Linked DNA regions of Homo sapiens. The protein of the gene in region 2 purifies or fractionates together with the protein of the main gene of each other region. This does not show direct contact. Each region holds a gene or a part of one and is shown on either strand. Other genes may lie near its edges.

Region 1 (4,888 bases), on a different chromosome or scaffold from region 2:
TGGCGTTTTCTTTGTGGGATTATTTCTATCTAAAAATCCCTTTTCCTTAATAGAGATAGGGCTAGTAAGGTTCTGACGTTTTCTTCTTTTTGCCTGTAGAGAGGTCTCATTATGTTTCCTGGGCTGGTCTTGAACTCTTGGCCTCCCAAAATGTTGAGATTACATGTGTAAGCCTCCATGCCCACCCAAGGTTCTGTATTTAAGTGAGTTTTGGTAGTTTGTCTTCAAGGAAGTTACTAACTTCAACTAAGACATTGAATGTATTCGTATCGTTTTTCAAAATATTCCCTTATTATCTGTAGGATCAATAGTGATATTCCTTAGTTCCTAATATTGTTAATTAGTATCTTTTTTCCTGATTTATCAATTTTATTGATCTTTTCAAAGAACTTTCCGTTTTTTTCTATTCTCTATTGTTCTATATCCCATTAATTGCTGCTTTTATCATTACTATTTTCTTGTTTATTTTGGATTTAATTTGTTCTTTTTCTAGGTTCACAGGGCCAAACCTGTCAGTGACCTGCTTTTGTTGTTAAAGTACTTAATGCTATAAATTTCCCTTTAAGCACTTCCTTAACTGCATCCCACAATTTTGTTTTGTTTTTGAGATAGGGTCTCTGCCACCCAGGCTCAAGTGCAGTGGCAGGATCATAGCTCACTGCAGCCTTGATCTCCCAGGCTCCAGTAAGCATCCCACCTCAGCCTCCCAACTAGCTGGGACTACTGGCAAACCACCACTCCTGGATACTTTTTAATTTTTTCTAGAGACTAGGTCTCACTATGTTGCCCAGGCTGGTCTTGAACTCCTGAGCTCAAGTGATCCTCTCGCCTCAGCTTCTCAAAGCGTTGAGTTTACAGGAATCAGTCACAGCACCTAGCCTCATTCTAAAAGTTTTGATATATCATCTTTTCATTTTCATTCAGTTCCAAGTATTAGTTTTCTTTGTAATTTCCTCTTTGTAGGTGGGTTACTTAGAAGTGTGTTGTGTAATTTCAAAATATTTAGGGATTTTTCTTGATGTCTTTGTTACTGATTTTTTATTTAATTGCACTATGATCAGGAAATAAACATACCTTGGCCAAGCACAGTGGCTCATGCCTGTAATCCCAGCACTTTGGGAAGCTGAGATGAGAGGATCACTTGAGCCCAGGGGTCTGACACCAATCCGGGCAACATAACGAGACCCTGTCTCTACAAAAAAAGAAAAAAGGGTGGGTGGCTGAGCATGGTGGCACATGCCAGTGGTCCCAGCTTTTCAGAAGGCTGAGGCAGGAGGATCACTTGAGCCCAGGAGTTTCAGGCTGCAGTGAGTTGATTGTGTCACTGCACTCCAGCTTGGGTGACAGAACAAGACCCCGTTTAAATTTTTTTAAAAAACCTTTATGATTGAATCCTTTTGAATTTGAGACTTATTGACCCAGAAGGTAAACTGTCTGTGTAAAAGTTCCATGTGCACCTGAAAAGCACATGTATTCTGCTGTTGCTTGTACTATTCTATAAATGTCAATTATATCAGGTTGTTGGTAGTGTTGTTCAAGTCTTCCGTTTCCTTACTGATTTCATCTACCTGTTTTATCAATTACTGAGAGGCACTGAAATTTCCAAATATAATTGCAGATGTCTGTTATTTCCTTTTTCTTTTCTTTTTTTGAGACGGAGTCTTGCTCTGTCACCCAGGCTGGAGTGCAGTGGCGCGATCTCCGCTCACTGCAACCTCCACCTCCCAGGTTCAAGCGATTCTCCTGCCTCAGCCTCCCAAGTAGCTGGGATTACAGGCGCACGCCACCATGCCCAGATAATTTTTGTATTTTTAGTAGACAGGGTTTCACCATGTTGGCCAGGCTGATCTGGAACTCCTGACCTCAGGTAATCCACCCACCTCAGCCTCCCAAAGTGCTGGGATTACAGGCGTGAGCCACTGCACCTGGCTTGTTACTTCATTTCTGTTTTCCTTTGTGTATGTTGAAGCTTTATTATTAGCTTTTAGGACATTTAGGATTGTTATGTCCGCTTGATGAATTTATTCATTTATTATATAACCTGGTGTTTGTTATTTGCCCTATCTCATAAGTCTATTATGGAAAAACAATAGGAAAATACTTTGGAAAATATATAGGAAACAGAAGGAAAAATGTTTAATAATCAAGGAAGTTAAAAAAATTTTAATGAATTTTCTTTATTATCTGTAAGTCTTATCCATGCTTGTCTCTACTTACATAAATGAGGTTTGCTATGTTTTATCAGATCTTAGGCATAATTTATTGTTGTGAAACACTGAACAAATTAGCAGTATATTACCCTCCACAACTCCCTGTGAGGTGAGTTGCACAGATTTAGGGATGAGAAACGAGGCACAGAGAGTTCAAGGATTTGTCTTAAAAACAAAACTTAAGATTTCCCAGCCTGTTAGTTGACCTCTTTAGTACAGGGCATTTTATTCCGACATAATTATATTTTATTCTGACATAATTATGCCCTCTGGCTCAGATATGAACTTGCTTTATTCTAAGAAACATAGATTACTATCAGAAAAATACTTGAATCCAATTTGGTTTCTCCTCTCCACAGAAGAAATAAATAATGAGTGTGTTATAAAACCTGATCTTGAAACGGTCCTTTCAAGTACACCATCTCAAGCTCATGGCTTTATCTAGTGTCCTTCCTAGCAATGAAACAGGATGGAACAGGCATTCAGTGAGTCTGAAGAGTAAGACTGCAAGTGAAAATTTTTACTCTATGACCTAGTTTCAGGTAGAAAAAAATCTGTCAGTGTTTAATTTTGATGAACTACTACTACTGGAAAGAAAATTCAGGCTACACAGTCTATAGTCTCACTAAAAATGTAGTGAAAATGTTCCAGCTAGTCTATTACATCCCTTGTAGAAAATCTTTTCTTCAGAAAGGTTTAAGCACACAGCTAACAAATACAGGTTAGTTATCCTGTGTTAATACCCCAAGGAGTTGACAGTCAGCCAACAGCTCAGTCTTCCATCCTTCAAGTCCTAGGCAAGAACAGGACTACCCTCACCCAAAATGTTGTAATTTGTAATGTTTTGATTCACATTTTAAATTATTGACTTAAAAAACAAACTCCAAGATGACTTAGGAATCACTTCATAAAGTCTTAGGTCTAGAAGGCTTGTTAACGATCACTTATCCAACTCCTTCCCTATAAGATAAAGAAACTAAGGACTAAAGAGGGCAAATGGCTCACCCATGGTTACACCATTAGATAATGGCAGAGGCAGGACAAGAACCCAGGTTTCTGAGCCTTTTTTCACTTGCCTCTGTTTCTTTAAAAATAACATTTTCTTTTCTGAATTAGCTCAAATCTATTTGGGTAGAGGTTAGGGAACCAATGTGTAGTGGTCTGAATGATGGCCCTCCCCCAAAGAGATTCTTATCTTAATCCCTTGAACCTGTAAATGTTATTTTATATAGCAAAAGATGTGATTAAAAGATGAATCCGGCCGGGCGCGGTGACTTATGCCTGTAATCCCAGCACTTTGGGAGGCTGAGGCAGGCGGATCACCTGATGTCAAGGGTTCTAGACCAGCCTGGCAAACTGGTGAAATCCTGTCTCTATCAAAAATACATAAATTAGCCGGGCACGGTGGCAGGCACCTGTAATCCCAGCTACTCAGGAGGCTGAGGCAGGAGAATAGCTTGAACCTGGGAGGCGGAGGTTGCAGTGAGCCAAAATCACACCAATGCACTCCAGACTGGGTGACAAAGCGAGACTCTGTCTCAAAATAAACATGAATCTACATTTTTTTTTCAGGGACCTGCCACTTTAGGAATAAAATATATTTTAAATCTGCTCTCTCAGGTTGAATTAAAAGATAGGATTGGAGAAATTTATCCTGGTTCATCCAAGTGGTTTCTTAATTGCAATCATATGTATCCTTATAATACACAGGTAGAGGGAGAGTTCTGATGCAAGTACTCAAAAGAGAAGACAATGTGAAAACAGAACAGAGAGATATGCCAAGGAATGCTGACCATAATCAGAAGCTAAAAGAGGCAAAGAACAGTCTCTCTCCTAGAGCCTCCAGAGGGGCCTCAATATCTTGATTGCAGACTTCTGGGCTCCAAAATTTTGAGAAGAATAAATTCCTCTTGTTTTAAACCACCAAGTCTGTGGTAATTTGTTATAGCAGCCACAGGAAACTAATACATAGGGGGAATAAAATTTTAAACATCATAAAGTGGACATATATAAAACATTACTGATCCAAAAAGAATTGTGTTTCAGATAACCCAAAGAATGTCTAAAACCTTTAATCCCTCATTTCAAAGGGTAAATTGAGGCTACTGCAGGATACAATTTGCCCCAAAGAAATTGGCAGATCTGAGAAGAGAAACTCAGAAAGATCTAATATTTACATAGCTGCTAACAAGAACAGTGTAGGTTTTTCTGCAAACATGCTAGTTGGTAGAGCTCCTGGACAGACTAAACATAGGCAGCAGTTGTCACAGTGGGTGTTCTTCCAGCACAAGTGTAAAGCTGTCATCAGAAATGAATATGTGGCTTCGAGTGGCTTACAGAAATCCAACAAATCTGCATCTTGGACTCTGGACAAGCGAACTCTTCTCAGGATGACCTGGACTCCTTCCTATTAGTACAATGATCAGTTAAAATCATTCTCTATAAGCAAGGAAGAAAAATAAAAGTTTATATCAGGAGAAAAAGATGATTGCCCAGAGTCCGAGTTCACGAATAGCAGATATGTAAACAGCCATACTAAGTCAAGTGGTATCTCATGTTGTAATTTATTACTTTTAAAATCAATATCCATAACACAGCTTTAGGCCCAGTTTCATGTAAGATGAATGGAAATAAAAATAATCTAAGTAAAAGGACAAAATAAAGACTAGAAATGCTTT
Region 2 (5,300 bases):
ATGGATTTTCTGGTACAAAAGTAAGTTTTCTGAATTACATTCAAAAGCGATTGTATGCTAAGTAAATTCCTTCAAAACTTGGATCTTTAAAAGTTAAGATAATTGCAAAATGTTATTAGACTATGATGTAGCTCAACAAATGATAGAAATTTGGCAGAAATTATACTAGTAACTTAAGAATGAGGCTGCTACCTTTACAGTGGCATAAGGAAAAATAGGGAAATGTGTCCTAGGGATGTTACACAAAACCATAGTAAAAACCTAGAAATTGGGAGTTAGAAGCTGCTTTGTGTGTTTTTTGTTTTCTGGTTTTTTTTTTTTTTTTTTTTTTGTTTTTGTTTTTTTTTTTGAGACGGAGTCTCCTCTCTTGCCCAGGCTGGAGTGCAGTCACGTGATCTCCGCTGACTGCAAGCTCCGCCTCCCGGGTTCACGCCATTTTCCTGCCTCAGCTTCCCAAGTAGCTGGGACTACAGGTGCCGGCCACTACCCCTGGCTAATTTTTTGTATTTTTAGTAGAGCCGGGGTTTCACCGTGTTAGCCAGGATGGTCTCAATCTCCTGACCTCATGATCCACCCGCCTCGGCCTTCCAAAGTGCTGGGATTACAGGCGTGAGCCACCGCGCCCGGCCTAGAAGCTTCTTTATCATGACCAGGAGTTCCCACATGCAATTGATCATCAGAATTGCTTGGGGAATTCAGGATAATTGGAATCATTTCTGTCAAGAGTTTTCAGTGGTAATTCAAACCATTTAGGAACTTATGGGCTGGTCATGGTGGCTCACACGTGTAATCCCAGCACTTTGGGAGGCTGAGGCAGGCAGATTGCTTGAGGCCAGGAGTTCCAGACCAGCCTGGGCAACATGGTGAAAAGCCCGTCTCTACTAAAATTACAAATATTATCCGGGCATGGTGGTGCGTACCTGTTAGTCCCAGCTCCTCAGTGGGGGCTGAGGCAGGAGGATCACCTGAGCCTTGGGAGGTCAAGGCTGCATTGAGCTGTGATCCTGCTACTGCACTCCAGCCTGAGCTAGGGATTGCCACCCTGTCTCAAAGAAAAAGAACTTGTGGCAGAGTACTTAATGAGAAGTGTACTGGAATGGTGATTCCACATTTACTATAGTCATATGCTAAATTGTGCTTATTGGACTAGTGGATCACAAATATTGGCCATCCCATACCTACTAAACATTCTAGAACCCCTACTTTTCAGAAACTTCCCAAGTAATATAATAGAATGACTAGCTAGGTTTCGAAAGCAAGAATTAAAGACTTAATTCCCCAAGGCTGAAATCTGTACTGTCATCTTAGTAGTTTTCTGCATTAGCAAATCTAGATAAATAATGTGAGAATTGTTTTTTGTTGTTGTTGTTGTTTTGAGACGGAGGACGGAGTTTCACTCTTGTTACTCATACTGGAGTGCAGTGGCATGATCTGAGCTCACTGCAACCTCCGCCTCCTGGGTTCAATCGATTCTCCTGCCCCAGCCTCCCAAGTAGCTGGGATTACAGGCACCCGCCACCACGCCCAGCTAATTTTTTGTATTTTTAGTAGAGATGGGGTTTCACCATGTTGTCCAGGCTGGTCTTGAACTCCTGACCTCAGGTAATCCACCCGCTTCGGCCTCCCAAAGTGCTGGGATTACAGGCGTGAGCTAGTGCACCTGGCTGAAAATTGTTTTTGAGACAGGATCTTGCTTTGTTGCCCAGACTGTGTTGCAGTGGCACGATCAGAGTTCCCTGCAGCCTTGACCTCCTGGGCCAAGGAATCCTCCTGCCTCAGCCTCTGGAATAGTTGGGGCTACAGGCACACGCTACCATACCTGGCTAATTTTTGAAAAATTTTTTTGCTATGTTGTCCAGACTGTTCTTTAACTTCTGGGCTCCAGTGATCCTCCCACTTTGACCTCCCAAAGTGCTGGGATTACAGACATGAGCCACCGTGCCTGGCCCTGTTTTTGTTTTTTAAGATGAGGATTACTTACAAGCAAGCAGCCCTGATGCAGTGTTTACTTTTGTGTGTGTTCTTTTTCTGGTGTTTACCCAGATCCGTTTCCCCCCTTTAAAAAGAAAGAAAAACCACGGTTGTAGTTCTGTAACACTGTCCTCTCCTTCATTCTTTTTCTGGTTCTTGTCTAACCTTCTACATACAGGTAATTCCAATTTTCTGTTCATATCTCTCTTCATTTCTTTTCAGTGTAATGTAGAAGCTCTCAGAGCTTTGCCTGTGACATCTGTGCAGAAGAATTCCTATTGATATCTTTAGACCTCACTTCTCCAGAGCTTTTCCTGATTTTTCTTCTGCCTGCCCGTGTCTTCCCTGGTATATCTTACTGGCTTCCCCAGTTTGACATGTTGTAAATGGAATTATTCCTTACGTGAAGGCCTTACCCCAACTTTCTCTCCTGTTGTTCCTATTTCTTTTCATCATAATTGGCTTTAGTTTGACATTTTCTCTTTCTCCATTTTATAGGCAGTCAATTTATAAACCCCAATGAATTCTGGTTGTGTAGCATCTTTCCCATCTAGGCCAGGGGTTCTCAAAATTTTATATGCATCATAATCAGCTGGAGGTACTGTGAAACAGTTAGTTGTGCCCCACCTTCTAGAGTTTCTGATTCAATGGGTCTGGAGTAGATGTGAGAATTTGCGTTTCTAACAAGTTCCCAGATGATGTGGATGCCCTTGACCCAGTATGGAGTACAGAATGCCTTAAGACGGCATTCAGAACACTAAATAGTCAGTTTTAATCGGCCTTCTCTCCCACTGTGCTTTCCCATATCAGAAGTCAGATTTGGACTTCAGCATACTTGTTACTTAGTAGCTGTGTGATCTTAGGCAAATTGTTTAATTTTCTTTCTTTTATTTATTTTTTTCTTTTTTGAGACAGGAAGTAGTCTTTCTCTGTCACCCAGGCTGGAGTGCAGTAACACGATCTCTGCTCACTGCAGCCTCCGCCTTTCGGGTTCAAGCGATTCTTGTGCCTCAGCCTCCCAAGTAGCTGGGATTAGCCAGCCGCCGGTTTTTTTTGTTTTGTTTGTTTTTTGAGACAGAGTCTTGCTCTTTCGCCCAGGCTGGAGTGCAGTGGCACCGTCTTGGCTCACTGCAACCTCTGCCTCCTGGGTTCAAGCAGTTCTCCTGTCGCAGCCTCCTGAGTAGCTAGGACTACAGGCACCGCCACCACACCCGGCTAATTTTTGTATTTTTAGTAGAGACCGGGTTTCATCATGTTGGTCAGGCTGGTCTCGAATTCCTGACCTCAATTAATCCACCCTCTTCGGCCTCCCAAAGTGCTGGGATTACAGGTGTGAGCCACCATGCCTGGCCCAGCTGCAGGTTTTTTGAGGTCAGGAATCATGTCTTAATTGTCTTTGTACTTCCATCGCGTTTGGAGCGATGTGTCCATTGATAGGCGGTTAGTAAATGTTTGAAAAATTGGTTTATGTTATTTACTCTTCTTTCCCTTTTTTCATTCTTTTCAATTTCTTTGCACCCTTTCCCCTTCTTTCCTTTTTAATGAAAGTTTTAGTAAGCAAAATTATTAGCATACCCAACAATGGTTTGCTTTCCCTCCAACCTGTTGGTAGTGAGTGAGTAGTTAATTCACATTTTATTCCATAAAACGTTTTACTTTTTCTCCAGAGTAATTAAGTAGAAAATATGGCTCTTGGCCAGGCACGGTGGCTCTTGCCTGTAATCTCTGCACGTTGGGAGGCTGAGGTGGGTGGATAATTTGAGGCCAGGCGTTCGAGACCAGCCTGGCCAACATGGTGAAATCCCGTCTCTACTAAAAATACGAAAATCAGCCAGGCATGGTGGCAGGTTCTTGTAGTCCCAGCTACTCGGGAGGCTGAGGCATGAGAATCGCTTGAATCCGAGAGCCAGAGGTTGCAGTGAGCCAAGATCGCACCACTCCATTCTAGCCTGGGCGAAAGAGTGAGACTCTATTTATAAAAAAAGAAAGAAAGAAAAGACCCTTAATGACTTTTTCCCCTCTCTTAAAACCTGGTTGTATTAGTGACTTTGACATACATGTATATTGTTGACTTCGCCGTCTCCTGATGTTACTAATTTGAACAGTGACTATATATTGCCGTTACAGACCAGAAGGGAAAGATTTCAGCATTCATCGACTTGTCCTGGGGACACACACATCGGATGAACAAAACCATCTTGTTATAGCCAGTGTGCAGCTCCCTAATGATGATGCTCAGTTTGATGCGTCACACTACGACAGTGAGAAAGGAGGTAGGAATCTTAAAGGTGAAAGAAGTAAAGATGTGTGGGTCATATCTGTTATGTGCACTTTGATAAAGTAAACTCTGACTTTAGAAACAATATTTAAGGTTGAGGGAAAGCCTGAGTTTGCAATGGTAGGTATTTATATTTATATTAGAGTTTTAGGTATCAGAAGAAATACTTAACACATCCTTGGTTCTGTACCTTCACAATAAACTTTTCTCAGCTGGTGCTGGTGGGGAGGATTTCTGCAATTGAAAGAAGCAAAAATATATATTATTGCTGTACATTCTTGATTTTTTATTTTTTTACTCAGTCTCGCTCTATTGCCTAGGTTGGAGTGTAGTGGCACGATCTTCTCTCACTGCAACCTCCGCCTCCCGGGTTCAAGCGATTCTTCTGCCTCATCCTCCTGAGTAGCTGGGATTACAGGCGCCCGCCACCACGCCTAGTTAATTTTTGTATTTTTAGTGGAGACAGGGTTTCACCAAGTTGGCCAGGCTGGTCTTGAACTCCTGACCTCAGGTGATCCACCCACCTCAGCCTCTCAGAGTGCTGGAATTACAGGCGTGAGCCACTGCACCCATCCATATTGCTATACATTCTTAACACGGGAGATAACTACCCCTAAGGAGGTGAAAATTGGTTTGTGTATGTGAGTAGGTGTAAATAATCTTACTGGTTGATTGTTTAAAGCACAGATATGCACAGAGGACATAGGATATCTATGGTATTAAAATTTCATGGGACTGGTGGGGAGGGAATAGTTCTTAAAAGAGTTCTTAGAGGAGCAATAGTAAAAAAAAAAAAAAGGTTGAGAAACACTAACTTAAATTACCCTTTCTAGGTTTAAAGTGGTAGAAATGACTTAACCATGGCACTCTCTATGTGTATAGAAACTAAGTTCCAATGAGTTGTTTAATTATATCCTGTTTTTAGGCCATAACCTAAGGGTTTAACTGCTCATGAAATGCTTAAACGCTTTCCTTTTTTTTTTTTTGGAGATGGAGTCTCGCTCTGCTGCCCAGGCTGGAGTGCAGTGGCGCGATCTCAGTTCACTGCAAC

Evidence for each region. Proteins that work in one complex are often made in the same cells at the same time.
Region 1: the proteins of RBBP4 (region 2) and CBX5 purify together in Homo sapiens (affinity purification with mass spectrometry; 6 studies listed by BioGRID and IntAct, with this or other methods). This does not show direct contact.

The regions. Positions count from the first base shown.
Region 1 is NC_000012.12:54,269,693-54,274,580, forward strand, and holds part of CBX5 (chromobox protein homolog 5), read right to left. Parts: intron 1-4,888. UniProt on the Homo sapiens protein: Component of heterochromatin that recognizes and binds histone H3 tails methylated at 'Lys-9' (H3K9me), leading to epigenetic repression. In contrast, it is excluded from chromatin when 'Tyr-41' of histone H3 is phosphorylated (H3Y41ph).
Region 2 is NC_000001.11:32,653,329-32,658,628, forward strand, and holds part of RBBP4 (histone-binding protein RBBP4), read left to right. Parts: intron 1-4,098; coding exon 4,099-4,244; intron 4,245-5,300. UniProt on the Homo sapiens protein: Core histone-binding subunit that may target chromatin assembly factors, chromatin remodeling factors and histone deacetylases to their histone substrates in a manner that is regulated by nucleosomal DNA.